Linked DNA regions of Homo sapiens. The protein of the gene in region 5 purifies or fractionates together with the protein of the main gene of each other region. This does not show direct contact. Each region holds a gene or a part of one and is shown on either strand. Other genes may lie near its edges. The genes, in order: APOO, LETM1, SAR1B, NDUFAF2, GSX1, LYPLA1 and DCUN1D5.

Region 1 (3,987 bases), on a different chromosome or scaffold from region 5:
CTTCATTATCTTTCCAAATATGTGGCTTTTAAAATAATGCTCAAGTATAAAAGTTACATTACTCTTCCAATTTACAGATGATTTTCCTTTTCCATTTAGCATTGTAATTCTCCGCGCAGTTCTAGTAACATACTAGTAACATGGTAAGAAAATTAATTTCAGGAAGACAGGCAATGTAAGTATTACACTAAGCCACAAAGAATGTGTGAGGTAATAACACCTCATAGTCATGGACATGTTCACTCAGGCTCCTTGGTGTGGTGAGCTCTGAGTACAGGTCATGTTATTTGCCCTTGAGGAAGGAAGTGACACAGACCAGTTTTCACTAGGCCACCTTCTTGCCCTGGAGGCTTCAGTTAGCAGCTGATGATTTCCCAATTTCCAGCCCACGTCTGTGGCAGGAAAAGTCCATACCCTGGGGTTCTACATCAACTGATTTCCCCCTTCCAATGCCCAGATATTTCAGCAAGCCCAACCTGTTCAAAACCAAACCATCACCTCCCCCTCAAACCAAATTCAACCTTCTTCCACTTTCCCACCTCAATGAATAGTTCCCACCTCAATGAATAGATCCCACAGTCAAAAGTCAAAAGCCTGGGCAGAAACCTTAATTTATCCTTCTCCCTCATCTACCACATCCAACTGACTACCAAGTTTTGAAATAAAAAATACTTTTGGAGAGCCCCAAGACCGTGCACCACCGTAACACAGGTAGTTACAAGATGCCATCTTACAAGATGCCAACTAAAAGTAACAGCTCACATTTCTTCAGCCCTTACTTTGGGCCAAGCACTGTTCTAAGCTTTGCGTAGGAATGAATTTAATCCACACAATAATTTGAGGTTGGTAAGCATCTCATCCTTGTTTTACAAATGAGGAAGCAGCTACAGAAAACTTTAGTATCTCTCACAAGGAACACAGTGAAGCCCAAGGTCTTAACACTGTTCTGAACACTCTCACACTTCTGTGTCCTTGCATGTGCTTTTCTTCTCTGTTTGGAAGGCCCTTTCAACCTTGTCTGCCTAGCTCCAAAGATCAGCATAGGCATGTTCTTCTCTATAAAGCCTTCTGATGCCCCCTGCTGTTGCTCTTCCCTCTAAGTCAGTAGATCTCAAGGCTGGCTGCTTGCTCCAAAAACTAGATGCCTAATCCTACCCCTAGAGATTCTTGATGTCATTGGTATAGGTTCTAGACTGGGCATCGGGACTTTTAAAAGCTCCCCAGGTGGCTCTAACATGCAGTCAAGGTTGAGACCCACTGCATCGTTAACGGACCTTTAATGTCTGTGCTGGTAAGTGCATTGTGAGCTTCTGAAATGAAAGTTTCATAATCACCTTGGGGGGCTTTTTCAAAACTAGCAGTTCCTGGACGCCAACTAAAAAGTCAGTCAGAACCATGCGCAGGGGCTTGGAAACTGTCTCCTTGAATAATTCTGATTTGTGGCCAGATTTGGGACCTCTCTCCTAGATAAGAACTGGGTCTTTTCACTTGTACCCACCAGGGTCCAGCATGATGCCCAGCCCATAGTTGGACTAGGATAAAATCTGTGTAATGAAGGAAATCTAATAACGTGAATCTGGGTATATGTATCCAATATTCAAACTTCCTGCAGCAGCACAAGGAAAAGCTGCTTCCTACAATGGAATGCAAATACTGGGCAGCTTTTCAAATGTGTTTTTTAATCCACCAATGCCCCCTAGTGACCTGAAGATGAATAACTATATCAAAACATCGCAGTATATATTTTAAGTACAATGTGTACTTAATATGCACATAACTAGTCAGACACACTGCACTTTTACTACCATTGTACTTTTACTACCAACACCTATACTATTAACTCCTTTGCCCTCCAGTTCTAGTTAACCCAAGCTGTTAACTCCCAAACCCCGATCAATCCTACCGTTTACTCCATCCCCACTCTGCACAAACATACAGGAGTGCTCTCAGCAGAGCCCTCAAAGGGTCTGGCCTATCTTTTTGTTCCTTGGTCAGTGCCTCTCCCAAATCCCACCATGTTCATAAGACCATCCATCTCGAAAACACAAGAACCATTCATCTACCGATTGGCTTCAATTCTTGCTAGTCAAAGGGGACCAACGAAAACTATAGAACTAGTTAAAAAATGGAGAATCTGGCCGGGTGCGGCGGCTCACGTCTGTAATCCCAGCACTTTGGGAGGCTGAGGCGGGTGGATCACAAGGTCAGGAGTTTGAGACCAGCCTGGCCAGCATGGTGAAGCCCCGTCTCTACTAAAGATACAAAAAATTAGCTGGGCATGGTGGCGCGCACCTGTCAATCCCAGCTACTCAGGAGGCTGAGGCAGAGGAATTGCTTGAGCCCGGGAGGCGGAGGTTGCAGTGAGCAGAAACTGCGCCACTGTACTCAAGCCTGCGTGATAGAGCGAGACTCCATCTAGAAAAAAAAAAAAAAATGGAGCATTTGAGGCCGCATCCCAGACCTACTGAATTGGAATCCATTTTAACAAGAGTCACATGCCCATTAAAGTTTGACAAGCACTGGTTCTCAACTACTAGACCTAACATCACCATTTTATGACAAATATTTTCTGACACTCTTCTGGTATCCTGAAATAAAATTCATCACTAAGTTACATGCATAAGTCCAAAAAGTAAATCAGTATACTCTGATGGTAGCATAAAGGTGAATAAAAAGGAAAGATTTATGTGAATTATATTTCAGTATGTAAATGTTCAACACAACTAAAGACATAAAGAACAACCCCATTTTCAGTTATAATTTTTGCAAAGTTAAAAACGAAAAAAGAAAAAAAGAACAACCCCACAAGTTTCCAAAACATACCATTCTGTTGAGTCGTACCATTCTATGGAGAACCACTGGTCTACAATCTCTCGCACCTTTCTTTTCCTTCCATCTCTCGGGTGGGAATATCTCTCCCTTGCACAGCTGAGGTATTCTCTCTAGAATCTTGACTGAACATATCCTTCTAGTTACCAAATTCTCTCTCCTTCCCTTGATAGTCAAGCTTATCAACCATCATAGTGTCCACTTACTTGGCCCTCAGTCACCAACCCAGGTTAATCTACCCTTCACTTCCATCAGTAAACCTAAAGTATAAGGATCATGAAAGCTTTCCAAAGTGCCCAAATCAGTGAACACGACTCATGATATGTAACTAACTCATATCTCATCTAGCTTATATCTCCGTCATGGACATTGTTGGTTGCATATCCAGTCTCTATTCTCCCTCTTCCTTCCTAAAAGAACTCCATTGTGTTCATGAATGCATTCCTCTCCCCTGTGATTAAGTGACGCCACCCTGGGTTGATCCTGTTTAGTCTAAGCCAATCAGATCATGGCATTCCTCTGACAACTGTTACAGGGTCAGACAACTGACCTAAGTTGGTCCAATCAGACTGAAGGACCAAGTGTGGGAGTTTTTTCTCTCTCCTCCTCCTCTTGCTCTAGAGAATGAGAAAGTGTGTATGTTACTAGTAGTCATCTTGCAACCCTAAAGGAAACCAACCTGACTGTGGAAACCCAAGAAGAGATGGGTCCTTGATGACACTGGTTTTTTTTTTTTTTTTTTTTTTGGGACGGAGTCTCGCTGTCTCCCAGGCTGGAGTTCAGTGGTGCGATCTCAGCTCACTGCAACCTCCGCCTCCCGGGTTCTTGCCATTCTCCTGCCTCAGCCTCCCGAGTAGCTGAGACTACAGGCACCCGCCAACACACCCGGCTAATTTTTTGTATTTTTAGTAGAGACAGGGTTTCACCATGTTAGCCAGGATGGTCTCGATCTCCTGACCTCGTGATCCGCCCGCCTCGGCCTCCCGAAGTGCTGGGATTACAGGCGTGAGCCACCGTGCCTGGCCTGACACTGTTGACCAACTGAATCAGAGCCTGGAATCCATTCTTCCTCTGGACTTTGTGAGAGAATTTTCCTTACTATTTAAGCAGTTGGGTTTTCCCAGCTGAAAGCATCCTAACATAGCCATTTCTCCTTGA
Region 2 (3,987 bases), on a different chromosome or scaffold from region 5:
CCCCAGCTGGGGTGGCAGCAGCATGCACGCAATCACTGCCTGCGGGCCCCAGGGTCCTCAGAGCACCAATTCCCCCAAGGGGTGCCACAGACCCTGGGGAAGGGGCTCAGAGTGGGAGGACAAAGGAGCCAGGGGGCTGCCTTGACAGGTGGCAGACAGCACAATGGGGCTGCCAGGGTCAAGTTCCTGCTCTGGCCAGGAACCTGGGCCATGGCTTCCCAGGGCAGAGTGGGGTGACATGCAGGGACCTTGTCCCCACTCTGCCACCCAGACTAGCAGGGAAGGGAAGGGCAGCTGTGCAGTAGATACATGATCCTTGCTTCCAAACTGAACTGCAAGAAACCAGCCAACACTTCTGTTAGACGTCTGGAAAATCACTAACCTGATGCATGCACCGGGAGCCACGAGGCAGCTTCCCCTCAGAGATGTCAGTGATTGGGAAAATTGGTGTGCGCACTCAGGCTAGAGCCCTGCCTTCCCTCCAGAGACTGGATCCTGGGCCAGGGTCTCCGGGGCTACCCTGGAACCTGAGTGGCTGCACTTGGGAGCTCAGCCCAGCAGTCACCTCTCAGCCTTGGGGCGGTGCCCAAGCTGCCCCGCGGCTCCCCTGTGTAGTTGCCTCTCAGCTTTGGGGGCCCCCGGCAGGTGTGAAGTGCCCCCAGGCTCCCTGTGCAGTCGCCCCTCAGCGTCGGGGGCCCCTGAGAGGTGTTTGCTGCACCCCCCCGGCTCCCCAGTGCCACCAGCTGGGGGCGGGGTCCAGGGACATGCGTAGCCACTAGGTGCGTTTTCTCTCTCAACACTTGAGTTGTAACTTCAATAATTTCTCACTTCTGATGTTTCAAATGAGAGCAGCGGCTTAAAGGAGCAGTCGCAGTGACAGACCCAAACCCCTGACAGGAGGGGGTAGCTGCCCAGGAGGGTGCCGGACATGCAATGAACAGTCCCCCTGCCCCACCCCACTCCAGAGCAGGTGGCGGATGGCCTGCGTGGTCCCCAGCGAGGCCCACCTTGACGAGGTCGTCGATGTTGACCTTGCCATCCTTGTTTTCATCCAGTGCTGCGGCCAGGCTGGTGAGCTTGCTTTCGGGAATGTGCTTGACTTGCTTCATGGCGTTGATGAGCTCAGCGACACTGATGACGTTCTCCCTGTGGAAGCACAGCCTGCATGTGGCCACGGGCAGGCGTCCTGCCACACAGGGCCTCACTGCCCACACCTGTGGCTGCAAGTGGTCAGCACTGACACAGGCGGCTCCGCGTGAGCCAGGCAACCTCCAGCACGGACCCCCAAGGTATGATCCCATCCTGCATACAATGCCAAGAGCTCCCAGGGCCAGCGTGGACACAAACACAGAAACACCACCAGGTCCAGGGTTTCCACGGGCATGTCTGCCCCTCAGTGGCTGCCCCTCTGGGGCCATGGCTGCTGGGCTGTTGTCCTCAGGCCTGTGGCCACTTGGCAATACGTTCACGATCATGGGGGCTGTGGTGCCCTGGGCAGATGAGGGCCTCCAAGAGCAGGGACGAGAGCATGAGCAGGGTGCCACGTGCAGCCCACCTACAACACTGTGGGTGTGGAGGTGGAGATTTGGAACCTGCAGGGCACCAGCAGTCACCCAACAGCTGTTTCATTCGCCCAGAAGGGACTCACAAAACGGCAGCTCCCTCAGCCACTGCTGCGCAGGAATCTGGGACATGTCGGGCACAGAGAAGGCCGACTGCCCGAGCTGGTGTCATTACTGAGCGTGGGTGGGGTCAGGAAGAGGGAGAGGCAAGAGAGAGCCTGGTAATTAGAGGAAACAGAAGCCAACAGAGGTGGAGGTTGGAGCGGGAGGAGAGGGGGCTGTGGGAAGAGGAAGAGGGGCCAGGAAGGGACGAACTGCTCTCGGAGAGGCAGAGACTGACATGCCAGAGGGTTCCTGGCTGGGACTGCTGGTCAAAGGTGGAGAGGCAGCCAGGCAGAGGCTACAATGTGCCCTTTGGAGCCAGAAGGGCCCAGCTCGGATCCAGCAAAGGGACCAGCCTCCCTATGTGAGTCTCCGATCCCTCTCCCGCGCCCACCACCCCACTCACCCCGTGGGCATGCCGTTGGCCGGGGCCAGCTTGCCAGCCTGCTGGTCCATCTCCAGCTGCGAGATCAAGCCATCGATCTGCCCGATCATTTGCTGCACCCTTTTTGTCAATCTCTTGCTGGCTTTAGATTCTTCCACGTACTTTTCTTCACCAGTCTTTGAAAGTTCCTTCTTGATCTCCTGCAAGTCCTAATAAAATTATTTTGGTTGTAAAAAGTTTGTCTTAAAAGAAAAAGGGGGTCAGGTGTAGTGGCTCACGCCTGTAATCCCAGTACTTTGCAAGGCCAAGGCGGGCGGATCACCTGAGGTTAGGAGTTCGAGACCAGCCTGGCCAATGTGGTGAAACCCCGCCTCTACTAAAAATACAAAAATTAGCTGGGCATGATGGCAGGCACCTGTAATCCAGTTACTTGGGAGGCTGAGGCAGGAGAATCGCTTGAACCCAGGAGGCAGAGGCTGCAGTGAGCCAAGACCATGCCAACGCACTCCAGCCTGGGCAACAGAGCGAGACTCTGTCTCCAAAAAAAAAAAAAAAAAAAAAAAGAATCTGGTTGGGCACAGTGACTCATGCCTGTAATCCCAGAACTTTGGGAGGCCAAGGCAGGAGGATCACTTGAGGACAGGAGTTCGAAACCAGACCAGGCAACATAGCAAGACTTTATCTCTACCAAAATTCAAACAAAAAATTAGCCAGGCGTGGTGGTGCACACCTGTAGTGCCAGCTACCCAGGAGTCTGAGACAGGAGGATGGCTTGAGCCCAGGAGGTGGAGGCTGCAGTGAGCCAAGATCACATCACTGCACTTCAGCCTGAGTGACAGAGCGAGACCCTATCTCAAACAACAACAAAAAAAGGTAATAAATTAACTTGTAAAGGTAATTAAACCCATTAATTCAAACCAGAGAGTTATAAAATTGTATTTCTATCATACAAATTTCTTATTTTTGTACACTGCCTTGCAAGCAAAAGACATAGAATCTATTCTGAATCTCAATTTCCTTCACATTTGTTAAAGAAAAATTAAGTGAACTAATTAATCAAGGAAATTAAGTGTCTTTGTTTTTTGAGATAGGGTCTTGCTCTGTCACCCAGACTGGAGTAAAGTGGCATGATCTCAGCTCACTGCAGCCTCCAACTCCCAGCCTCCCACTCCCAAGCAATCCTCCTGCCTCAGTCTCTGGAGTAGCTGGGAGTACAGGCACACAACATCATGCCTGGCTAATTTTTGTATTTTTTGCAGAAATGGTGTTTCACCATGTTGCCCAGGCCGGTCTCAAACTCCTGAGCTCAAGTGATCCTCCTGCCTTGACCTCCCAAAGTGCTGGGATTACAGGCCTGAGCCACCAGTGCCCAGCCTTAAGTGTCTTTTTAAATTCCAAGTTGTTTTTTTCCCACGAGTAAACACCATGAGGAAGAATGGGGAAGGCGAGGGGAGGGGAGGGAAGGAACAGGCTGAGCTGGTGATAAGCACCTCACATCCAGTGGAGAACCCACATGGCATGAGGGCTGTCATAAATCTAGAAATGGCCAATTATTTTTGCCAATTGAAAAATCAGTTATCATTCCCAACAGAGCTATGAAAACAGTTTTTAAAAAATCGTATTAGGGGCCGGGCACAGTGGCTCATGTTTGTAATCCCAGCACTTTGGGAGGCTGAGGCGGGTGGATCATGAGGTCAGGAGTTCGAGACCAGCCTGGTCAACATGGTGAAACCCTGTCTCTACTAAAAATACAAAAAATTAGCCAGGCATGGTGGCACATGCCTGTAGTCCCAGCTACTCAGGAGGCTGAGGCAGAAGAATCATTTGAACCCAGGAGGCGGAAGTTGCAGTGAGTCGAGATCACGCCACTGCACTCCAGCCTGGGCGACAGAGCTAGACTTCGTCTCAAAAAAAGAAAAAAAGAAAGAAAGAAAGAAA
Region 3 (3,987 bases), on a different chromosome or scaffold from region 5:
TCAAAAAAGGAAAAAAAAAAAATTAGAGTCATTATTAAAAAACATTATTTTTGGCCAAGTGTGGTGGCTCATGCCTGTAATCCCAGCACTTTGGGAGACTGAGGTGGGCGGATCATCTGAGGTCGGGAGTTTGAGACCAGCCTGGCCAACATGTTGAAACCCCGTCTCTACTAAAAATACAAAACATTAGCTGGGTGTGGTAGCACATGCCTGTAATCTGAGCTACTTGGGAGGCTGAGGCAGGAGAATTGCTTGAACTCAGAAGGCAGAGGTTGCAGTGAGCCGAGATCGTGCCATTGCTCTCCAGCGTGGGCAACAGAGCAAGACTCCATCTCAAAAAAAAAAAAACTTTCAATTTTTTTGGTATTTTTTGTTTCTTTAGAGACAGGGTCTCACTCTGTTGCCCAGGTTAGGAGTGCAGTGGTGCAATCATAGCTCAGTGAAGCCTTGAACACCTAGGGTCAAGTGATCCTCCTGCCTCAGCCTCCCAAGTACCTAGGACTACAGGTGTATGCCACCATGCCAGACTAATTTTTTGTTTTTGTTTTTGTAGAGATGGAGTCTCAGTATGTTGCCCAGGCTGGTCTTAAACTCCTGGGCTCAAGTGATTCTCCTGCCTCAGCCTCCCAAAGTGCTGGGATTACAGACATGAGCCACCACACCCACCCTTGTTTTAAAACTTCCTGTGTGTCAATATATGCCTTGTTTTCTTTAGATTAATTCTGTGGTGTACATTAGATATTGTTGAGGTTATTAAGACTAGAAAAATAACTGGTTAACAAATTGAGTTACCAGCCATGTATAAAATTGTAATGTATCTACTGAATTAGTGCTTAAAATAGTACATGGTGCAATGGCTCCTATCTTTAATCCCAACACTTTGGGAGGCAGAGGCAGGAGGATCACTTGCACCTGGGAGTTTAAATGGTGCGCTATGATCATACCACGGCACTCCAACCTACATGACAGAGCAAGACCCTGTCTCTACACAAATAAAATAAAGTAATATGGCTTTAAAATCTGAAAGAAGCCTGGGCGCGGTGGCTCACACCTGTAATCCCAGCACTTTGGGAGGCCGAGGAAGGCGGATCACAAGGTCAGGAGATCAAGACCATCCTGGCTAACACGGAGAAACCCCGTCTCTACCGAAAATACAAAAAATTAGCCGGGCGTGGTGGTGGGTGCCTGTAGTCCCAGCTACTCGGGAGGCTGAGGCAGGAGAATGGCGTGAACCCGGGAGGTGGAGCTTACAGTGAGCGGAGGTCGTGCCACTGCACTCCAGCCTGGGCGACAGAGTGAGACTCCACCTCAAAAAAAAAAAAATCTGAAAGAAAAAATTCAGGTTATGTAAACAAGGCGATGGTGGACTATTTACCAATCATGTCACAATCCCTCAGACAAAAACTTTTTAATTCCTCAAGCTAGAGAAGGGAGTACTAGCTGATAAAAAGGTATGAGTACTAATTCAAGATCTAAATATTCTCCCTGGGAGCGAGGTCACCTATAATTTATTATTTTAGGAACAGGTCAAATCACCTGATCATAATTTATCTACCAGAAAATGCCCCCCAAACAAAAAACTTGGCCAGGTGCAGTGGCTCACGCCTGTAATCCCAATACTTTCGGAGGCTGAGAGAGGCTGATCACTTGAGCTCAGGAGTTCAAGACCACCCTGGGAAACATATCGAAACCTGGTCTCTGAAAAAATATAAAAATTAACTGGGCATGGTGGCACATGCCTGTGGTCCCAGCTACTTGGGAGACGGGAGGATGGCTTAAGCCCAGGAGACAGAGGTTGCAGTGAACTGTGATCATACCACTGCATTGCAGCCTGGGCAACAGAGAAAGACCCTGTCTGAAACAAAACACTTTTGGTTAGTGCATATGACTCAGCATCATTTGATCAAGTATCACATTGTATGTAGGAATATACTTACTGGGATGTAATGTTGGGACATGTTGTCCAAGTCTGTCATCTTTTAGCATGTGTAGCAATGTTGTTTTTCCTGCATTATCCAATCCAAGAAATACCAGTTTACCAGTTTTCTTATATAATCCTGCAAAGCAAGAGCTATGATTGGTCAAAGTGATATCTGATACTAATTATCCAAATGAATTTAAATTTGGCCCAATTAAGCTTGAAGTTCTAAACCTATTTTCAGTTTTAAAAAAGCTATTTTAAATCTATTCATGGCCGGGCACGGTGGCTCACACCTGTAGTCCCAGCACTTTGGGAGGCCGAGGTGGGCGGATCACCTGAGGTAAGGAGTTTGACACCAGCCTGGCCAACACGGTGAAACCCCGTCTCTACTGAAAATACAAAAATTAGCCAGGTGTGGTGGCGCATGCCTGTAATCCCAGCTACTTGGGAAGCTGAGGCAGGAGAATCACTGGAACCCAGGAAGCAGAAGTTGCGGTGGTGAGCTGAGATCATGCCATTGTACTCCAGCCTGGGCGACAAAGTGAGACTCTGTCTCAAAAAATAAATAAATAAATAAATAAATAAATAAATAAATAAATCTATTCATGATTTGGGACTTCAGATAATTATAAAACCAAACTTCAACCCAGTCAATAGAATATGTGTTTTGCCTTAACATATCTACAATGCCAAAATGCTGATTAATTTTAGAAGTATCAATCAGGTATTGATTGATAGATAAATTGATAAATAGAAAAAAGGCAGCATTGACCAATTTATAATAGACTGGAATTGAACTGCTAAATTTCATATTGAACTTAATTAATTGATTTATTTAGAGACAGTGTCTTACTCTGTTGCCCAGGCTGGAGTGCTGTGGCATGATTACAGCTTGCTGCAGCCTCAACTTCCTGGGCTCAAGTGATCCTCCCACCTCAGCCTCCTGAGTAGCTGAGACTACTGGTGTGCACCACCACGCCTGACTAATTTTTGTATTTTTTGGTAGAGATGGGGTTTCACCATGTTGGCCAGGCTGGCCTCAAGTGATCTGCCCACCTTGCCCTCCCAAGGTGCTGGGATTATCAGCGTGAGCCACACGCCCAGCCAAACTTTATTTTTTACATGTTTAATGGTCTAACCTCCACAAAATTACATGTGAGCCACCACACCTGACTGAAATAAACAAACTTTTAAAGACATTAGGCAATTATAGTTTCAGGCCATCCGTTTTTGAATAGATTCATACTAAAATAACACTTACTCCTTTGTCCATGCTTAAGTCTAAGAAGTAAATTGTTTGATGTCCTAATCTTTTAGTTTTGGGGGCAGAACTATATATATATTTTATCATTAAGGAATCTACTTCTATGACTGTCACTACTATGAGTGTCACGAAAAAGTAATTTGCCCAAGATTACATAATTTAAAAGTAATTGAACATATTTGTTCAATCGAGTAATTGAACATATTTGTATAATTACAAAGCCCATATTCTTTTTTTTTTTTTTTTTTGAGACGGAGTCTCGCTCTGTCACCCAGGATGGAGTGCAATGGCATGATCTCGGCTCACTACAACCTCCGCCTCCTGGGTTCAAGCGATTCTCCTGCCTCAGCCTCCCAAGTAGCTGGGACTACAGGCGCGTGCCACCATGCCTGTCTAATTTTTTGTATTTTTAGTAGAGACGGGGTTTCACCGTGTTAGCCAGGATGGTCTTGATCTCCTGACCTCATGATCTGCCTGCCTCGGCCTCCAAAAGTGCTGGGATTACAGGCGTGAGCCACCGCGCCCGGCCTTAACTATTCTTAACTATTGCTTCATATATAAAGAGGCTCAACACAAATAAGCACTATTATATAAATAAAATTAAAGGAGATAACTATAGAGAACAAAGGACCAATATTACCTAGAAACTGTAGCAAGGAGGCCGGGCACAGTGGCTCACGCCTGTAATCCTAGCACTTTGGGAGTCCAAGGCAGGTGGAACATTTGAGGTCAGGAGTTCGAGACCAGATTGGCCAACACGGTGAAACCCCATCTCTACTAAAAATACAAAAAATTAGCCAGG
Region 4 (3,987 bases), on a different chromosome or scaffold from region 5:
ATAAAAAGGGCAAACTACTCAAAAGATAAAAACTACCAAAACTCACCTAAGACAAAATAGATAGCCTGAGTAGTCTTATACCTGCCAAAGATATTAAATTTGTAGGTTAAAAATTTATTATCTTTGAATTTTTAATTCCAGCCTTCCAACAAGGAAAACTCCAGGACCAGATGGCTTCACAGGCAATTTATATCCAACATGTAAGAAATAAGTAATACAAATTCTTCACAAACGCTTCCAGAAAATTCAAAAGAAGGAAACAAAATTTAACTCACTTTATAAGGCCAGCATTAACCTAAAAACAAACCTAGAAAACACATTAAAAGGAAGAAATTAAGATCCTGAAGAACAGAAAACAAAATTCTTCAATAAAATGAAAGCACATCAATCCAATAATATATAAAAAGGATAATGCATCATGACCAAGTGGAGTTTACCTGACAAATGCAATATTCAAGACATTCAACAATCAATCAATGCCAAATGAGTTAAAAGCTTATGTCCACTCAAAAAACTGCACAGGAATATTTATAGCAGCTTTATTCATAATCGCCAAAACTTGGAAGCAACCAAGATGTCCTTCAATATGCAAACGAATAAACAGTGGTTCTAACCATACAACAGAATATTATTTAGCAATAAAAAGAAAGTAGATGGCCAGGCATCTGGTTTACTCCTGTAATCCCAGCACTTTGGGACGCTGAGGCAGGCAGATCATCTGAGGTAAGGAGTTCAAAACCATCCTGGCCAATATGGCGAAACCCTGTCTCTTACTAAAATTACAAAAATTAGCTGGGCATGGTGGTGGGCACCTGTAATCCCAGCTACTCGAGAGGCTGAGGCAGGAGAATCACTTGAACCTGAGAGGCAGAGGTTGCACCGAGCCAATATCGCACTACTGCACTCCAGCCTGGGCGACAGAGTGAGACTCTGTCTCAAAAATAAATAAATAAATAAAAAGAAAGGAGCTATTATGCCACAAAAAAACATGGAGGAAACTTAAGTGCATATTACTAAGTGAAAGAAGCCAGTCTGAAAAGATCACATACTATATGACAGCAACTACATGACATTCTGGAAAAGGCAAAACTACAGAGACAGTAAAAAGATCAGTGGTTGCTAGGGGTTTGGTAGCAGGAAGGGAGGAAGTGAGGACACATTAATGCAAGATATTAACAATGGGAGAAACTGCATTGGGGGAGCAGGAATATCTGAGTAGTTTCCATTCAATTTTTCTGTAAACCTAAAATTGCTCTAAAAAATAAAGTCTATTAATTTTTAAAAGTCAATCAGTATAAATTCACCACATGATCATTCCAACAGAACCAAAAAAAAAAAAAAAACCCAGCAAGCAAGCATGTGACAAAATTGACAAAATTCAACATCGATTCATAAGAGAAAGCGCTCAGCAAACGAGGTACAGACAGGGAACTTTGTTAATTTAATAAAAGGTATCTAAAAAATTATAGCTAACACCACACTTAACAATGAAAGAGTAGTGGCCAGGCGTGGTGGCTCATGCCTGTAATCCCAGCACTTTAGGAGGCCAAGGTGGGCAGATCATCTGAGGTCAGGAGTTCGAGACCAGCCTGTCCAACATGGCGAACCCCATCTCTCCTAAAAATAAAAAATTAGCCAGGCATAGTGGCACATGCCTGTAATCCCAGATACTCAGGAGGCTGAGGCAGAAAAATCGCTTGAAACCAGGAGGTGGAGGTTGCAATGAGCCAAGATCACGCTATTGCACTCCAGCCTGGGCAACGAGAGCGAAATTCCACCTTTGGGGAAAAAAAAAATGAAAGATTAAATGTTTTTCTTCTAAGATATGGAACAAGAAAAAGATACCTATGCTCACCACTCTTATTCAACATTATACTGGAGGCTCATCTAGTGCAGCCAGGCAAGAGAAGGAAATAGAATGCAAATAAGTTAGAAAGGATAAAAACAAAACTGTCTCTATCCACAGTTGATATAATTACCTACAGAGAATGTCCAAAGGATCTGCAAAAGGCTTCATTCAAGAACTAGTAGGTGAGTAAAACAGGTTGCAAGATACATGCTCAACATGGAAAAATCTATTGTACTTCAATATAATAGTAACAAAGAATTAGAAATTACGTTTTTTAAAGCATCATTTATAATAACAATACAATATAATATACTTTATAATAAATTTAACAAAACATATCATGATCTCTATGCTGAAAACTACAAATCAGTGATAAATTTTTAAAAATGACCAAGTAAAAGGTCTCTGTGAATTAAGTCAAACTGATTTCGACATTAAATCCCATTCTCTTAAATGCTACGTTATCCAATTTGTCTCTCTTGAGTAGCAAAAATACTTTGTGAGGCTAAGTAGGTACTGTTATTTCCGTTTTACAGAGTAAGCTGGAGCTGCTATGGCCAAGCACTCACACTCTTAGGTATGTACTCATGGAAAATGAAAACTTATGTTCACACGAAACCCATATGTGAATGTTTCTTGCAGCTGTATTCATAATCACCAAAAACTGCAAGTAACTAAACTCAAATGCCCTTTAATGAGTAAATGAACAAACTGGTACATCCATTAACATGGAATACTAATCAGCAGTAAAAAGGAGCAAACTACTGATATACGTAATGAATCTCAAAGGCATTATGCTGAATAGAAGAAGCCAGGTTCAAAAGGTTACATATGGTATAAGTATACATGTGGGACAGTCTCAAATGGAAAAAAGTATAATGGCAGAGAACAAATCAGTGGTTGCTGAGGTTAGGGATGAGGAGAGATTGTAACTACAAAAAGGTAGCATGAGGGAGTTATTCAGGGTGACGGAACTGTTCTGTATCCTGATTTTGGTGTTGGTTACATGAATCACATGTGTTCAAATTTATAGAACTATACACCAATTTTAAAAGTTAATTTTACTGTATTTTAAAAATAGAATCTAAAAAAACCAACTAATAGCAAACAGAAAACTAAAGAAAAAAAATGAGATACCACAACACACCTACTAGAAGAGCTAAAATTAAAAAGACTGACCATACCAAGTGTTGATAAGGATATAGGACAACTGGAAATCTCATACACTCCTGGTGGGAAGGTAAAACGGTACCACCACTTAGGCAGTTTCTTAAGAAGTTAAACATACACCTAACAAGTTGACTCAGCCATTCCATTTCTAAATATTACATCAAGAGAAATAAAAACATAAGTCCATACAAAGACTTACACATGAATGTTCATAATTTATTTGTAATAACCCCTAACTAGAAACAACCCAAATATCTATGAACAGGTGAATGGATAAACAAATTATGGTATATACATACAATGGAATATTACTCAGCATTAAAAAGAAATAAACTACTGATAAACACAAAAACATGGATGAATCTCAAAATAATTATGCTGAGTGAAGAACCTAAAAAACAAAAAAAAAAAAAAGCAGAATATGTGCTGTATGCTTCCACTTAAATAAAATTCTAGCCAGGCGCACTGTCTCACATCTGTAATCCCAGCACTTTGGGAGGCCGAGGCAGGCAGATCACAAAGCCAGGAGTTCAAGACCAGCCTAACCAACATGGTGAAACCCCGTCTCTACTAAAGATACAAAAAGTTAACTGGGCAGGGTGGCACACATCTCAGTTACTTGGGAGGCTGACGCAGGAGAATCACTTGAACCTGGGAGGCAGAGGTTGCAGTAAGCCGAGATAGCGCCACTGCACTCCAGCCTGGGCGACAGGGCGAGACTCCATCTCAAAATAAACAAATAAAAATAACTAAATAAAAATTATAAAAAATACAAACTAATGTATAGTGTCAGAAATCAGATGAGTGCCTATCCATGGAAGCAGAAGCATAAGGCAAGACTAGAAAGGAGCACAACAAATTGTTGTGGATATTGAATATGTTAATTTTCTTGACTGTGTTGATGGTTTCACAGATATATACATATGTCAAAACTTACCAAATTATACATTTTAAGCATGGGCAATTTT
Region 5 (4,656 bases):
GCAGGTTACTTCTCCCATTGTCCTATTCCCTTTTACAGAAGCAGTTATTATCTCGCAAAACAAATTATCTTTGCTTTTTAATCAGTTATAATCTGTTGCTGTTGTTATTGCAAAGATGTTGCCAAGGATAAAAGCCCATGCAGATGCTTCGGGTTTGGGCAATCTTATTCCTGCGCACTGCTTCCCCAGACCCCTAAGCTTCCCCCTCCATTTCTCACAATTCCATTCAGGGCTCAGAGCAGGTGACTGCAGCGATTTGGTTCCAATAAAATCGAAAGTAAACGTCTCCTGTGAAAAGTCCCGGGCTGTAAATTAGAAATGTTTATGCTGATTTCCCATTGTATGGAAAAAGCTCCTGGGCGAAACAGCTTTGAGCCCGAGAACGATTTAAAAAGCTGGAGCTGTGTACACAGCTCTGAGCGTTTGAAGTTGTTTAACCATTGTGTGACCAGAAAGAAGAGTGACGCGGCAGGAAGAAGAAGCCGGGTCTTGGGGAGAGCGGAGGCGGGTCAGGGTGGGCAAAGGCAGCCGATGCCAGGAATACAACCGCCCTTCGCGCCGTTCCAAACTAAGAGATGGCAGCGGTTTCCCAGCGCACTGCTGGAAGTGTGCTCCAGTAGACAGGGTGTGGGCAAGATGCGCGGGCAGACAGTCCGCACTCGCCACATGTGCTGGGGTGCGAGATCTAGATCTGCGCCATCTCGGCTTTCATTCCCCATTCCCTGTCTCTGTTCGTAACGCTCAGAGACTGTTTTTCCTCTTTTACATCCACGGCCCTGTCATTTGAAGGAAAGGGCTGGTTGGCCAGCATCTACCGAACAAAGACTGGGCGTCGTAGGCAGCACCAAAATTAAGACTATTTGAGAAACTTAGAGAAAACCGAGGGACAGCGATGGGTCTAGGGCTGGATAAGGAATAATGAGCCCTTCTCCTCCCTCCCCACAGACGCCTCCTTCACGCGGGAACCCGGTCCTCCTTCTTCCGACGCAGAGAGAGAAGCGATTCCACAGGTGGAAAATCTGAGACCGGCTGGAGGGAGGTTCGGGGGTGCACGGCACTGAGCTGACAGGGCTGACTGGAGACAGCATACTTTTGGGGTGTAAGGGCGATAATAGAAAGAAGGGGACCAGGACCAAGTGGACAGAGGATATGAGGGTGTGCGCCCATGGGGATCTGTAGAAGAGAGGCCGCGGGGGTGCAAAATCAGTAAGGTGAACGGGCTGATGGCCAATGCAAAGCCAAAGGGGAGTAAGAAATAAAGAGAAAGGAAAGAATATTAAATCGCGGGAGAATGAGAAAATAAACCCGCAAAAGGGAGAGGAGGGGGCGAGGGCGCCTGTTACGGCGTGGGTGGGGTTGACAAGAATAGAGTACATTATGCAGTTCATTTAGTTAACAAGTGAAATAATGAGGAAGCGTGCAGAGTGAATGCCAAGAGAAAAGGCACAAAAACCCTATTGAGAGGCCCCGGCCGCTCCTGGCGTAGTCCATCACATGGCAATAGTCCTATTTAAGCCGCGCCGCCGGCGCCTTTCAGCACCACTAGCGCTGGCCAGCACCCCGCGCTCTTTGGGCGGTGCCCACGGCAGCAGAGGCTACTGTTTCAGCCTAGGTCTCAGCCGCGCGTTCAGCCTCCTGGGCAGAGGCAGCTGCGGGATACCGCGGCCAGGGAAAGCGCGTGGAGAGCCGAAAGGTGCGGTGGGCGCAGAGGGCGGGCTGGCTGCGGGGCGACCGCGCGCCGGGGCCATGCCGCGCTCCTTCCTGGTGGACTCGCTAGTGCTGCGCGAGGCGGGCGAGAAGAAGGCGCCCGAGGGCAGCCCGCCGCCGCTCTTCCCCTACGCTGTGCCCCCGCCGCACGCGCTGCACGGTCTCTCGCCTGGCGCCTGCCACGCGCGCAAGGCTGGGCTGCTGTGCGTGTGCCCGCTCTGCGTCACCGCCTCGCAGCTGCATGGGCCCCCCGGGCCGCCCGCGCTGCCTCTACTCAAGGCTTCCTTCCCACCCTTCGGCTCGCAGTACTGCCACGCGCCCCTGGGCCGCCAGCACTCTGCTGTGTCGCCCGGGGTCGCTCACGGCCCGGCCGCCGCTGCTGCTGCCGCCGCGCTCTACCAGACCTCCTACCCGCTGCCTGACCCCAGGCAGTTCCACTGCATCTCTGTGGGTAAGCGGGGCCGCCGCGCAGAGGGACCGGGCAGAGGTGATCCGAAGCAGGATGGAGAGCCAGAGATGGAGGAAGAGGGACCCTGGGCTTTCTGGGGGCGGTGAGGGTCATGTCGGGGACTAAGGGGGGCGCTTGGGGTGGAGTGAGGATAGAGGGCCGGGACACAACGCCAGGAGGCGGATGAGGGCAGACGTCCAGGTCCTGGAGTGTGGGCCGGGGTAAGTGAGGGCTGGGATCCAAGGCTCTCCATGAAGGGGAAGGGGTTCCAGGGCTGCATGACTCCGGGAGAATCAGGATCTCGGAGCTGGACAAGGAGCGCTCACTGTAGCTCTGCTGTGGATTGTGTTGGGGCGAAGAGATGGGTAAGAGGTCAAAGTCGTAGGATTCTGGCGACCGCCTACCAAGGGATTGGGTCCACAGCACAGAGGTCTGATCGCTTCCTTCTCTGCTCTGCCACCTCCAGACAGCAGCTCTAACCAGCTGCCCAGCAGCAAGAGGATGCGCACGGCTTTCACCAGCACGCAGCTGCTAGAGCTGGAGCGCGAGTTCGCTTCTAATATGTACCTGTCCCGCCTACGTCGCATCGAGATCGCGACCTACCTGAATCTGTCCGAGAAGCAGGTGAAGATCTGGTTTCAGAACCGCCGAGTGAAGCACAAGAAGGAGGGCAAGGGCAGCAACCATCGTGGCGGCGGCGGCGGGGGTGCCGGTGGTGGCGGGAGCGCACCGCAAGGCTGCAAGTGCGCATCGCTCTCCTCAGCCAAGTGCTCCGAGGATGACGACGAATTGCCCATGTCTCCGTCCTCCTCAGGGAAGGACGACCGGGATCTTACGGTCACTCCCTAGGCGCGTGTCTCCCTAGGTCGCCCACCCCAAGACCTCCCTGCGCCTCGGAGACTAGTCCTGGGACTCAGCGCTGATTCCCAGGCACCCGCAGCCAAACCACTGCCTGGCATGGATTTGGCACTGCTTTGCAGAGGTCCCGGGCCTGGGCAGGGCTGAGAGCTTGGCAGAGACTGGACCATGGCGTCCCCGCCCCAGGGCTCGCTCGTGTCCAAAGCCAACTCCAAGCTGTGAACACTGTAAGCGCTCGAGTCCTCCTGGGCAGTGCAGCACCGCGGCCCCCGCCCGCAAGCCTGCTTGGCGCAGCGCCTTGCTGGCAGCCGGCGCCTCCTAGCCCGCCCTCTCTGGGCTGGCTTGGGCTTCCTCGCTTACTCTACTCTCCTCCGCTCTCGGTCAAGGTCGGCGGCCTTGGATGCTCGTTCGCTTCTCTTTTTAAAATGTCTTTTTGTCCCTCCCCACCTCTTTCCTGTGATCATTTATTCACTCGGCCCCCGCCCGCCAACACACACATTTATGAACCCCCACTTTTTTTTTCCTTCTCCTTTTCCCTTCCCCTCCTCAGGGAGCCTCCTCCTTCAGTCAGTCCATTTGTCCCTTGATCTGGCCTTGCTGTCCTCAGTCCCCACGGCTCCTCTCACAGATGATAAATTTCGCCCGTAGTATCCATATTGGGGAAACAGATTTGCTCTGTTTCCAACACGCTCTTCCTTCCTCTAAACATAGGACCCCGCTCTGCGCCGCTGGCGACCCCACTCTTCCCCCTCCAGACTCTGGCCCGCCCCAGCCTAGCTGTGTAATTGTACGGCCTCTGCAATGCCAGAAGATATTTATTTATTTATTTATGTACAAAATTTTAAATAAACTTTTTTTTTTCTTAGAAATGCCCGTGGCTCTGAGCCCAGAGGCCTTCGCTCTGGAGTAGACAGGCGCCAACCCGGATTGGGCCTCCCTTCTGGGAAGGGTTGGGGATCCAGTTGCAGGGTCCGAGCCGGCTCCTCGCCTTACAGCTCAGCCAGTGCCTCTCGGAACCCTCAGCTCCGCTGAGAGCCCGCCTTGCATGCCAGCCAGGTGCGCGCTAACGATTGTCCCGCTCCGGCGTGGCGCACAAGCGTCGCGGAGCTCAGAGAGCTAAGCCGGAAGGGAAGGAGAGCGCTCTCCTTGGACTGCACCATGGGTCCCAACCCCTGCAGCGCCTCCTTCTCACCTGGGATCCAGCCCCACCTCCATCCCTCACCATTTCGCTGTCCTGGCCAACAGCCGGGAGGGCAGAAACCACTCCCTCCATAAGCACAAGAAATCCGTCCTTCACTGCGCTTGGATTGATAACGATTCGTTAGGGACAAATTTCCATTCTGCGGGATGGTGCAGACTTCTCTCAGAGGGCCCTCCTCTCTTTGTTTTAAGGCAAATTCCCTTAGCCGAGTCCCTGGTCGCGGAACATTCCGGGCAAGGAATCCGAGAATCCGAAGTGATCCTGCCCCAGGGAGTCCCCGAGAGGGACTCTGCATAGCTGGAGCCAGTGGCTCTGGGACCTCATGTTCTCACCAATTCTCGTTAAAATCCTATATCCCCCTACGACTTAGAATCCACACCCCAGCTCCCTTTGAGGACATATGCGGGTTTTTTTACTCTCTAAGATGGATGAGGAGAAGGAA
Region 6 (3,987 bases), on a different chromosome or scaffold from region 5:
AAGCAAAAAAAAAAAAACTTCAGTCTAGGCAGATTCCACAGACTGAAGCTAAAAGTAAAAATGGTGAAGACTATTAGGATCAAAAATACCAAGAACATCCATTACATCTTGACCAAAAGTTAAGTTTATATTAAAAAAGTATCCTTCTTTTTAACCTGTTGTGATAAAAGAAAAAACAAAGGTCTCCAGTTCTGAAATTATTTGGTGGGATAATGCTAAGGAAAGGCTGACTCTAGATTGGTTCCATGAGTGCATGATGAAACTTCGAACCTGTCAGCCTGACAAGTGGCAATTTAATACTTAAGATATTGTAGTCTCCCCTTACCTGCAGTTTTGCTTCCCATGGTTTCAGTTACCCGTGGTTAACTGTGGTTTGAAAATACTAAATGAAAAATTCCAGAAATACTTTATAAGTTTAAAATTGTACACCATTCTTTTTTATTTATTTTATTATTATTTTTTGAGATGGAGTCTCACTCTGTCACCCAGGCTGGAGTGCAGTGGCACGATCTCGGCTCCCTTCAACCTCTGCCACTCGGGTTCAAGTGATTCTTGTGCCTCGGCCTCCGGCGTAGCTGAGATTACAGGCGCGTGCTACCACGTCCAGCTAATTTTTTTGTATTTTTAGTAGAGATGGGGTTTTGCCATGTTGGCCAGGGTGGTCTTGAACTCCTGACCTCTAGTGATCCACCCACCTCGGCCTCCCGCAGTGCTGGGATTACAGGCATGAGCCACCATGCCTGGCCTGAATTGTACACCATTCTGAGTATTGTGATGAAATCTCATTCCGTCTCACCCAGGACACGAATCATTCCTTTACCTAGCGTATCCATGCTATATCCATTCACCATCTGTTAGTCACTTGGTAGCCATCTGGGTTATCAGGTCAACTGTTTTGGTATTGTTTTGCTTTTTTTTTTGAGACAGAGTCTTGCTCTGTCACCCAGGCTGGAATGCAGTGACACAATCATGGCTCACTGCAACCTCCACTCTCCAGGTTCAAGCAACTCTCCTGCCTCAGCCTCCTGAGTAGCTGGGACTACAGGCGTGCACCACCACACCCGGCTAATTTTTGTATTTTTAGTAGAGACGGGGTTTCATCATGTTGGCCAGGCCAGTCTGGAACTCTTGACCTCAAGCGATCTGCCCGCCTTGGCCTCCCAAAGTGCTGGGAATACAGGCATGAGCCACCTCGCCCAGCCTGTAGTGCTTTTATCCAAATAAGCCTTACATTGCTTAATGATGGCCCCAAAGTGCAAGAGAAGTGATGTTGTCATATTGTTATAATTGTTTTATTATTGTTAATCTCTTCCTATGTCTAATTTACACAATAAACTTTATCACAAGCATTATGTATAGGAAAAAACATAGTATATATAGGGTTTGGTGTTATCCATGGATTCAGGCATCCACTAGGGGTTTTAGAGCATCCCCCACTGTTTATTTCTGGAATTTTCCATGTAATATTTTCGAACCACAGTTGACTGTGGGCAGCTGAAACCATGGAAAACAAAACTGTGGGTGAGAAGGACTAGGGTATTTTAAACATTATATAATCACAGAAAAGTTATCCCATTAAATTTAACATTTAGTATTATCTAATATATTATGCATTCAACCTTTGCCAGATTGTTCCATTAATATCCTTTATAGCTATCTCCTCCCTAGTCATACATTATATTTAGTTATCACGTCTCTTTAGTCTCTTTTGTCTCTTTTAATCTGGAACAATTCCCTAGATTTTCTTTTGTCTTTCACGACATTGACACTTCTGCAGAGAACAGGCTAGTCCTTTAATTTGGGTTTGTGTATTTACTCATGATTAGATTCAGTTTATGCATTTCTGGTATAAATACCATGTAAACAATATGTCCTATTCATTGCGCGCATCAGTAGACTAATGATGCTGAGTCCTTTTATTGTTGTAACTTCGATCTTTTGATTAAGGTGGTATCTTCCAGGTCTCGACTGCAGTTACTTTCCTTTTGTAATTAAAAAGCAAGTTGCGGGGGGATACTTTGTGACTATGCAAGTTGTTCATCAAGCTTTCACCCAATATTTTTATCATCCATTGATAATTGCTTGAGTCAATCATTTCTACAGTGTGATTTTCCAATTCTGTCATTCCTTTTTTTTTGTCATTCCATTTTGTTTATTAATCTGCTACTCCCCATTTAGTTAGTATGGACTCAGATTTATTTTCTATTTATTTATTTATTTGTTTATTTTTTGAGACAGAATCTCGCTCTGTCACCCAGCCAGGCTGGAGTGCAGTGGTGCAATCTCGGCTCACTGAACCTCCACCTCCCAGGTTCAAGCAGTTCTGCTGCCTCAGCCTCCCAAGTAGCTGGGACTATAGGTGCGTGCCGCCACACCCGGCTAATTTTTTTTTTTTTTTTTGAGACCTTGTCTCGCCCTGTCGTCCAGGCTGGAGTGTAGTGGCGTGATCTTGGCTCACTGCAACCTCTGCCTCCTGAGTTCAAGTGAGTCTCCTGCCTCAGCCTCATGAGTAGCTGGGATTACAGGCACGTGCCACCACGCCTGGCTAATTTTTTTTGTATTTTTAGTAGAGACGGGGGGGTTTCACCATGTTGGTCAGGCTGATCTCAAACTCCTGACCTCGTAATCTGCCCTCCTCAGCCTCCCAAAGTGCTGGGATTACAGGCGTGAGCCATAGTGTCCAGTCAGATTTTTGTAGTTTTAGTAGAGACGGGGTTTTGCCATGTTGGCCAAGCTGGTCTCGAACTCCTGACCTCAAGTGATTTGCCCACTTCGGCCTCCCAGTCCCTCCCTGGAATTACAGGCATGAACCACTGTGTCATGCCTGGACTCAGATTTATTTAATAGGTTATGTTCTATTCTGTTATGTTTTAAACTTTTTAACTTTTCATTTTAAATAACTTGAAATTTACATAAAAGTTGCAGAAATAACATTTATAGCTCCTTATACCTTTCACCCAAATTACCCAATTGTTAATATTTCTGAACTATTAAAGAATAAGTTGCAGGCGTGTTGCCTCATTACAGCTTAATTCTTCAGTGTACATTTTTAAGTACCAGGACACTCCAGTATAACCATCATTAAGAAGTTAACACTGATGGTATACTACGGTCTAATCCACCAGCTCCATTCACATTTCATTGATTTGAGCCAATAATGTCCTTTATCAGTCTAGGATCACATATTGCCTCTACTTATCATTTCTCTTTAGTTTTCTTTATTCTGAAACAGTCCTTGTCTTTCATGACCTTGACACTTTGTCAAGAATACAGGCCGGGTATGGTAATACCAGTGCTTTGGGAAGCTGAGCATGAGAATCGCTTGAGCCCAGCTGTTTGAGACCAGCCTGGGCAACAGCCAGACCCTGTGTCTACCAAAAAAAAAAAAAAAAAGTGTAAGCCAGTTACTTTGTAGAATGTCCCTCAGTTTGGGTTTATCTGATGTTTTGTGATTTATACCTTTTTGACAGTAACACTATAGGGGTATTGCTGTGTCCATAACAGTGCATCATATTAGGCAGACCTCATGATGATTTTGTTGTTACTGATGTGTTTTATCACTTGGTTAAGATGGTGTCTGCCAGGTTTCTCCACATTAAAATAATAAATATAACATATGAAATATTTAAAATATTGAATATGTAATTAAAATATTAAAAAATATTTTGTGGGGAGATACCTTGATATTATAACATATTCCTGATCCCCACCATATGTTCACCCATGGATTTAGCACCCATTAATGATTATTGCCAGAATCTATTGTTGTGGTAGTTGCCGAATATCTTATGATATTTAAATATTTAAAGTTAAAATATGGTCTTTTAATTAAATTTCCTTTGTTCTGGCCGGGTGCAGTGGCTCATGCCTGTAATTCCAGCACTTTGGGAGGCTGAGGCAGGAGGATCATCTGAGGTCAGTAGTTCAGTACCAGCCTGGCCAACATGACGAAACCTCGTCTCTACTAAAAATTAAAAAACTAGCTGG
Region 7 (3,987 bases), on a different chromosome or scaffold from region 5:
GAAAGATTGGAAGCAATGGTATTGGAAGGATTAACATTTTGCAGTCCGGGGAAAGCACATTAGTTACAGACCTCGCTTTAGACTTAGATCTGTTACTATTTACATCACTTTGGCAAAGTCAGTTAACATTTACAGACCTTATCTAAGTTATAAGGTATTATATCTCTATGTAATCTCATTTGACTTGCTTCTAACCAAATTTTAATTAGTAATCACCAAGTAATCCTCCAGTTTCTAGGGGGGCTATACTGATATTTCTTTTTTATTTTTTATATTTTTTGAGACAGAGTCTCGCTCTGTCACCTACGCTGGAGTGCAGTGGCGCAATCTCGGCTCACTGCAACCTCTGCCACCTAGGTTAAGTGATTCTCCTGCCTCAGCCTCCTGCGTAGCTGGGATTACAGGCACCTGCCACCACGTCTGGCTAATTTTTGTAGTTTTAGTAGAGACAGGGTTTCACCATCTTGGCCAGGCTGGTCTTGAAATCCTGACCTCGTAATCCATCTGCCTCGGCCTCCCAAAGTGCTGAGATTACAGGCGTGAGCCACTGCTCCTAGCTTATGCTGATGTTTCTAGACATCCTCTAAAGCTTTCTCTTTGAATCACTAATGGCAACTTTGAGAGCAAGTATGTTTTCTTGATGCTTTAGAAAAATTTACAATATATTTACATCGTGGCTTTTAAAAAAACCGTTTGTCTTTTCCCTTAATTTTTTATTTTTTATTTTTTTTTGAGACAGGGCCTTGCTCTCTCCCAGGCTGGAGTACAATGGCGTGATCATGGCTCATTGCAGCCTCAAACTCCTGGGCTCAAGCAATGCTCCCACCTCAGTCTCCTGAGTAGCTGGGACCACAGACTGGCACCACCACACAAGGCTATTTTTTTTTTCCCTAGAGATGGGGTCTCCCTGTGTTGTGCAGGTTTGTCTGGAACTCTTGGGCTCAAGTGATAATCCCACCTCGGCCTCCCAAAGTGCCAAGATTACAGGCATGAGCCACCGCGCCTGGGCCTCTTAAATTTTCAAATCTGATTTTTGTTTTCTTTCAATCATATATAAGAATACATACTCATTTATGCATTTTAACACCTTTATTGTATATGTATGCCTTTTAAGTTATAAAATTAACACATTCTCATTTAAACAATTCTCCAAATATGTAAAGGAAGAGAAAGTGCCCTATAATTAATCACCCCCTTCACCTTTTAACACGAGTGCATTGTTAGTACTTATTTAAACCTAATAACACTTAACATGTTACACAAAAAAATTAAAAAGGGTTTTGGCTTCAGACCAGTATTAATGTCATCTTAGCAGCTTGGATCTCAGGCAGCAAGAATGTATTGACTTTATGTTGTGCTAGTAACCTAAATATGGTGCTGTCAAATTTACCTGAGCAGCCTTGGTCTAGTCTATGGTTTATAAAGCTGGAGGATTTTCATCCTTGAAAAAGGAAAATAGAGGCTTCTCTTGACTCTTAAGAATAATATCTCAAGATTATATTTTCAAAATCCCATAGTGGTAAACACATTTCTCATATTATTACAAAATTTGTTTTATTCTTATCCAGTCACAAAAGAGACCTAGTGATGATGTAATTACTATATTTTGGGAATCTGATAACATTTTGAAAAAATGATAATTGATGTATTGATTTATTAATGTTGCTAAGGGTGTAAAATAAGGAACAAGTTAAATGCCAGTAATTAATTTTTGGATGAATGATAGACACTAACTAATTGAAAGATTAAACTTCTGTTTCTACATTAAGGTGACATCAATGCTTGCTGTCTGTTTTAGAACCAAGATGATAAGGAAAATAGCTCTTTCTGGAAATGGAATGTAGTAATTTCCATAAGTCATTATTTTCAAAATACCTTTGTCTTTTTCAATAATTAAATTATATTTGAGTGTATTTCAAAAGGGTAATAAATGGCCTGTTTTATAGGTAAATATATTCCCCTTCTGATTACTGTATTGAACTTTGTGTTGGTTCTGATATTCCAGTAGATTAAGAAGCTCCAGCTGCCTTATGTTTTTTCATATTCATGCATTGTCAAAAATTTTATTCAGAGTAGGCTCTCAGTGAATTTTTTTTTTAATGGATTGGTTTGAGTTTTTGTACTAACTTGTGATTGATACTAATGGAGTATTTCTTTGCTGCTTTTTAAATTTTCTTAATTTCATATTGTAATCTGGTGTTCAAAGAATACTTCACAAATTTTAAATTTTAAATCCTGTAGCAAATATTTATACTTATCAAAGCTATGCCAAAATTCAAATTTAATTATTTGCAAAATATTATGGTGTGTTCATGGGTACCTTTAGCATGACGATTTATGTTTTATGTTGATATTATAACAAAATATGTTAATTATTTTTGTCTTTGAAGGTCCTGATGAAGTTGTAGGGCCAGAAGGAATGGAAAAATTTTGTGAAGACATTGGTGTTGAACCTGAAAATGTATGTTTTATTTCTAAGTAGAATGGCATATAAGTGGGGTATAGCATATTCGTAAATTACTAAAAATCGAGACACTTTAATCTTGTATGAAGATTTTATTTCTTCATGTTTAATATTGTAAATTTGCATTTAAGGTATTTTTAATCAGTTTAAGTTGGGCAAATGTATTCTTTCTTGATACAAATGTTATATGTAATAGAATAAGAGATTCTACCTTCAGAAACTGTTAGAACTTTTTACTTTTAAGAAATTGGCACATCTCAATTTCTTTGTATATAGTTAATAATTCCAGAGGTTGTACTCTTTAATAGTTGAAGGATGGAAGTAGTTGTGTAAAAATGCTCTCCATGATAAATATAGACATGATTATCTCTATGCTGACTTTTCCCCTATCCTTTATGTTCTGTTCTTTCCAGATTATTATGTTAGTTTTAGCGTGGAAATTGGAGGCTGAAAGCATGGGATTTTTTACCAAGGAAGAATGGTTAAAGGGAATGACTTCATTACAGTAAGAAATTTTTTTAAAAAACAAATTTGATGGCCTATTTGAAGATCTTAATTGATATTTTGTGCTTCATAATTTTCAGGAGTAAGGTTTCACCTTAAATCAAATCTGTTTGATCTATAACAATTAGTTTGGGGATTGAAAAAATTATATTGTGGTCTTGGGCAAATATATAGGTACCCCATGTTTTATATTCTCTAAGAAAGAACCTTAGTACAGTCCTATTAAAATTCCTTGATTCTCTTGGTGAGTGACTTAAAAGTCTATGATCAAAGACCTATTTATTTACAGGTTGTTTGAGTATAAGGATTTTCCTCTCTCAATACAGAATTCTACTATCGAAGGAGTATGTTCGTTGGGCAGCCCTAAGCTCTAGGGCCTCCTCTCCCTTCTTCACTTTAATATTTGACTTTAAAAATTTGAAGATAGAGTTACATAACCCTTTTATGATTTCTTTATTGCCAAGTGAATTTCATAAAGGACAAAAGTAGAAATGTTGTAACTGCTCCCGTGCAATCTTTACCCATTTTATAGTCCTACACTTTCAGTTTAGGATCCTGTCTTTGAACATTTTCATAAGTTATAGAATTGCATCTTATAAAAATAATTTGATTTTGGCTTTCCTGAATGAAGTGTGCTTAATTTCAGAATCAATTAGTGATTTTGTGTTAATTGTATAGTATCATGTTTCTAGTGTTTCTGCAGGGTATTAGTTATCAACATTCTAAAATAGAGAAAGCATTAATTTATAATATTTTTGAGGCAAAAACTGGGGCTTAATTAGCTGTTTGGTTTCCTGTTGTGATTATGCTTTCATTAACACATGTAATTATTCTTTATTTTTTGCCTGGCCTTAAATTTTTTTTTAAAGTATTTGTTTATGAGGCACTAAAATTTTTAAATTTGAATTTTCAGTGCTAATGGTTTGTAATTCTCTTTTTTAACTGACATTAACATGTAGACACGTGGATATTTTATATATTTATTTTTGGGTAAAAGCCTTTGCTCATATGAACCAAAT

The links.
Region 1: the proteins of GSX1 (region 5) and APOO purify together in Homo sapiens (affinity purification with mass spectrometry; one large-scale study listed by BioGRID and IntAct). This does not show direct contact.
Region 2: the proteins of GSX1 (region 5) and LETM1 purify together in Homo sapiens (affinity purification with mass spectrometry; one large-scale study listed by BioGRID and IntAct). This does not show direct contact.
Region 3: the proteins of GSX1 (region 5) and SAR1B purify together in Homo sapiens (affinity purification with mass spectrometry; one large-scale study listed by BioGRID and IntAct). This does not show direct contact.
Region 4: the proteins of GSX1 (region 5) and NDUFAF2 purify together in Homo sapiens (affinity purification with mass spectrometry; one large-scale study listed by BioGRID and IntAct). This does not show direct contact.
Region 6: the proteins of GSX1 (region 5) and LYPLA1 purify together in Homo sapiens (affinity purification with mass spectrometry; one large-scale study listed by BioGRID and IntAct). This does not show direct contact.
Region 7: the proteins of GSX1 (region 5) and DCUN1D5 purify together in Homo sapiens (affinity purification with mass spectrometry; one large-scale study listed by BioGRID and IntAct). This does not show direct contact.

Annotation. Positions count from the first base shown.
Region 1 is NC_000023.11:23,900,952-23,904,938, forward strand, and holds part of APOO (MICOS complex subunit MIC26 precursor), read right to left. Parts: intron 3,392-3,987; exon of another isoform or gene 2,845-3,391; coding exon of another isoform or gene 2,824-2,844; intron 1-2,823. UniProt on the Homo sapiens protein: Component of the MICOS complex, a large protein complex of the mitochondrial inner membrane that plays crucial roles in the maintenance of crista junctions, inner membrane architecture, and formation of contact sites to the outer membrane.
Region 2 is NC_000004.12:1,814,657-1,818,643, forward strand, and holds part of LETM1 (mitochondrial proton/calcium exchanger protein precursor), read right to left. Parts: intron 2,259-3,987; coding exon 2,071-2,258; intron 1,147-2,070; coding exon 1,008-1,146; intron 1-1,007. UniProt on the Homo sapiens protein: Plays an important role in maintenance of mitochondrial morphology and in mediating either calcium or potassium/proton antiport. Mediates proton-dependent calcium efflux from mitochondrion.
Region 3 is NC_000005.10:134,618,996-134,622,982, forward strand, and holds part of SAR1B (small COPII coat GTPase SAR1B), read right to left. Parts: intron 2,058-3,987; coding exon 1,938-2,057; intron 1-1,937. UniProt on the Homo sapiens protein: Small GTPase that cycles between an active GTP-bound and an inactive GDP-bound state and mainly functions in vesicle-mediated endoplasmic reticulum (ER) to Golgi transport.
Region 4 is NC_000005.10:60,947,998-60,951,984, reverse strand, and holds part of NDUFAF2 (NADH dehydrogenase [ubiquinone] 1 alpha subcomplex assembly factor 2), read right to left. Parts: intron 1-3,987. UniProt on the Homo sapiens protein: Acts as a molecular chaperone for mitochondrial complex I assembly. Complex I functions in the transfer of electrons from NADH to the respiratory chain. The immediate electron acceptor for the enzyme is believed to be ubiquinone.
Region 5 is NC_000013.11:27,790,945-27,795,600, forward strand, and holds GSX1 (GS homeobox 1), read left to right. Parts: upstream 1-1,538; 5' UTR 1,539-1,746; coding exon 1,747-2,158; intron 2,159-2,621; coding exon 2,622-3,004; 3' UTR 3,005-3,824; downstream 3,825-4,656. UniProt on the Homo sapiens protein: Probable transcription factor that binds to the DNA sequence 5'-GC[TA][AC]ATTA[GA]-3'. Activates the transcription of the GHRH gene. Plays an important role in pituitary development.
Region 6 is NC_000008.11:54,095,156-54,099,142, reverse strand, and holds part of LYPLA1 (acyl-protein thioesterase 1), read left to right. Parts: intron 1-3,987. UniProt on the Homo sapiens protein: Acts as an acyl-protein thioesterase. Hydrolyzes fatty acids from S-acylated cysteine residues in proteins such as trimeric G alpha proteins or HRAS.
Region 7 is NC_000011.10:103,081,730-103,085,716, reverse strand, and holds part of DCUN1D5 (DCN1-like protein 5), read left to right. Parts: intron 1-2,390; coding exon 2,391-2,461; intron 2,462-2,877; coding exon 2,878-2,969; intron 2,970-3,987. UniProt on the Homo sapiens protein: Contributes to the neddylation of all cullins by transferring NEDD8 from N-terminally acetylated NEDD8-conjugating E2s enzyme to different cullin C-terminal domain-RBX complexes which is necessary for the activation of cullin-RING E3 ubiquitin ligases (CRLs).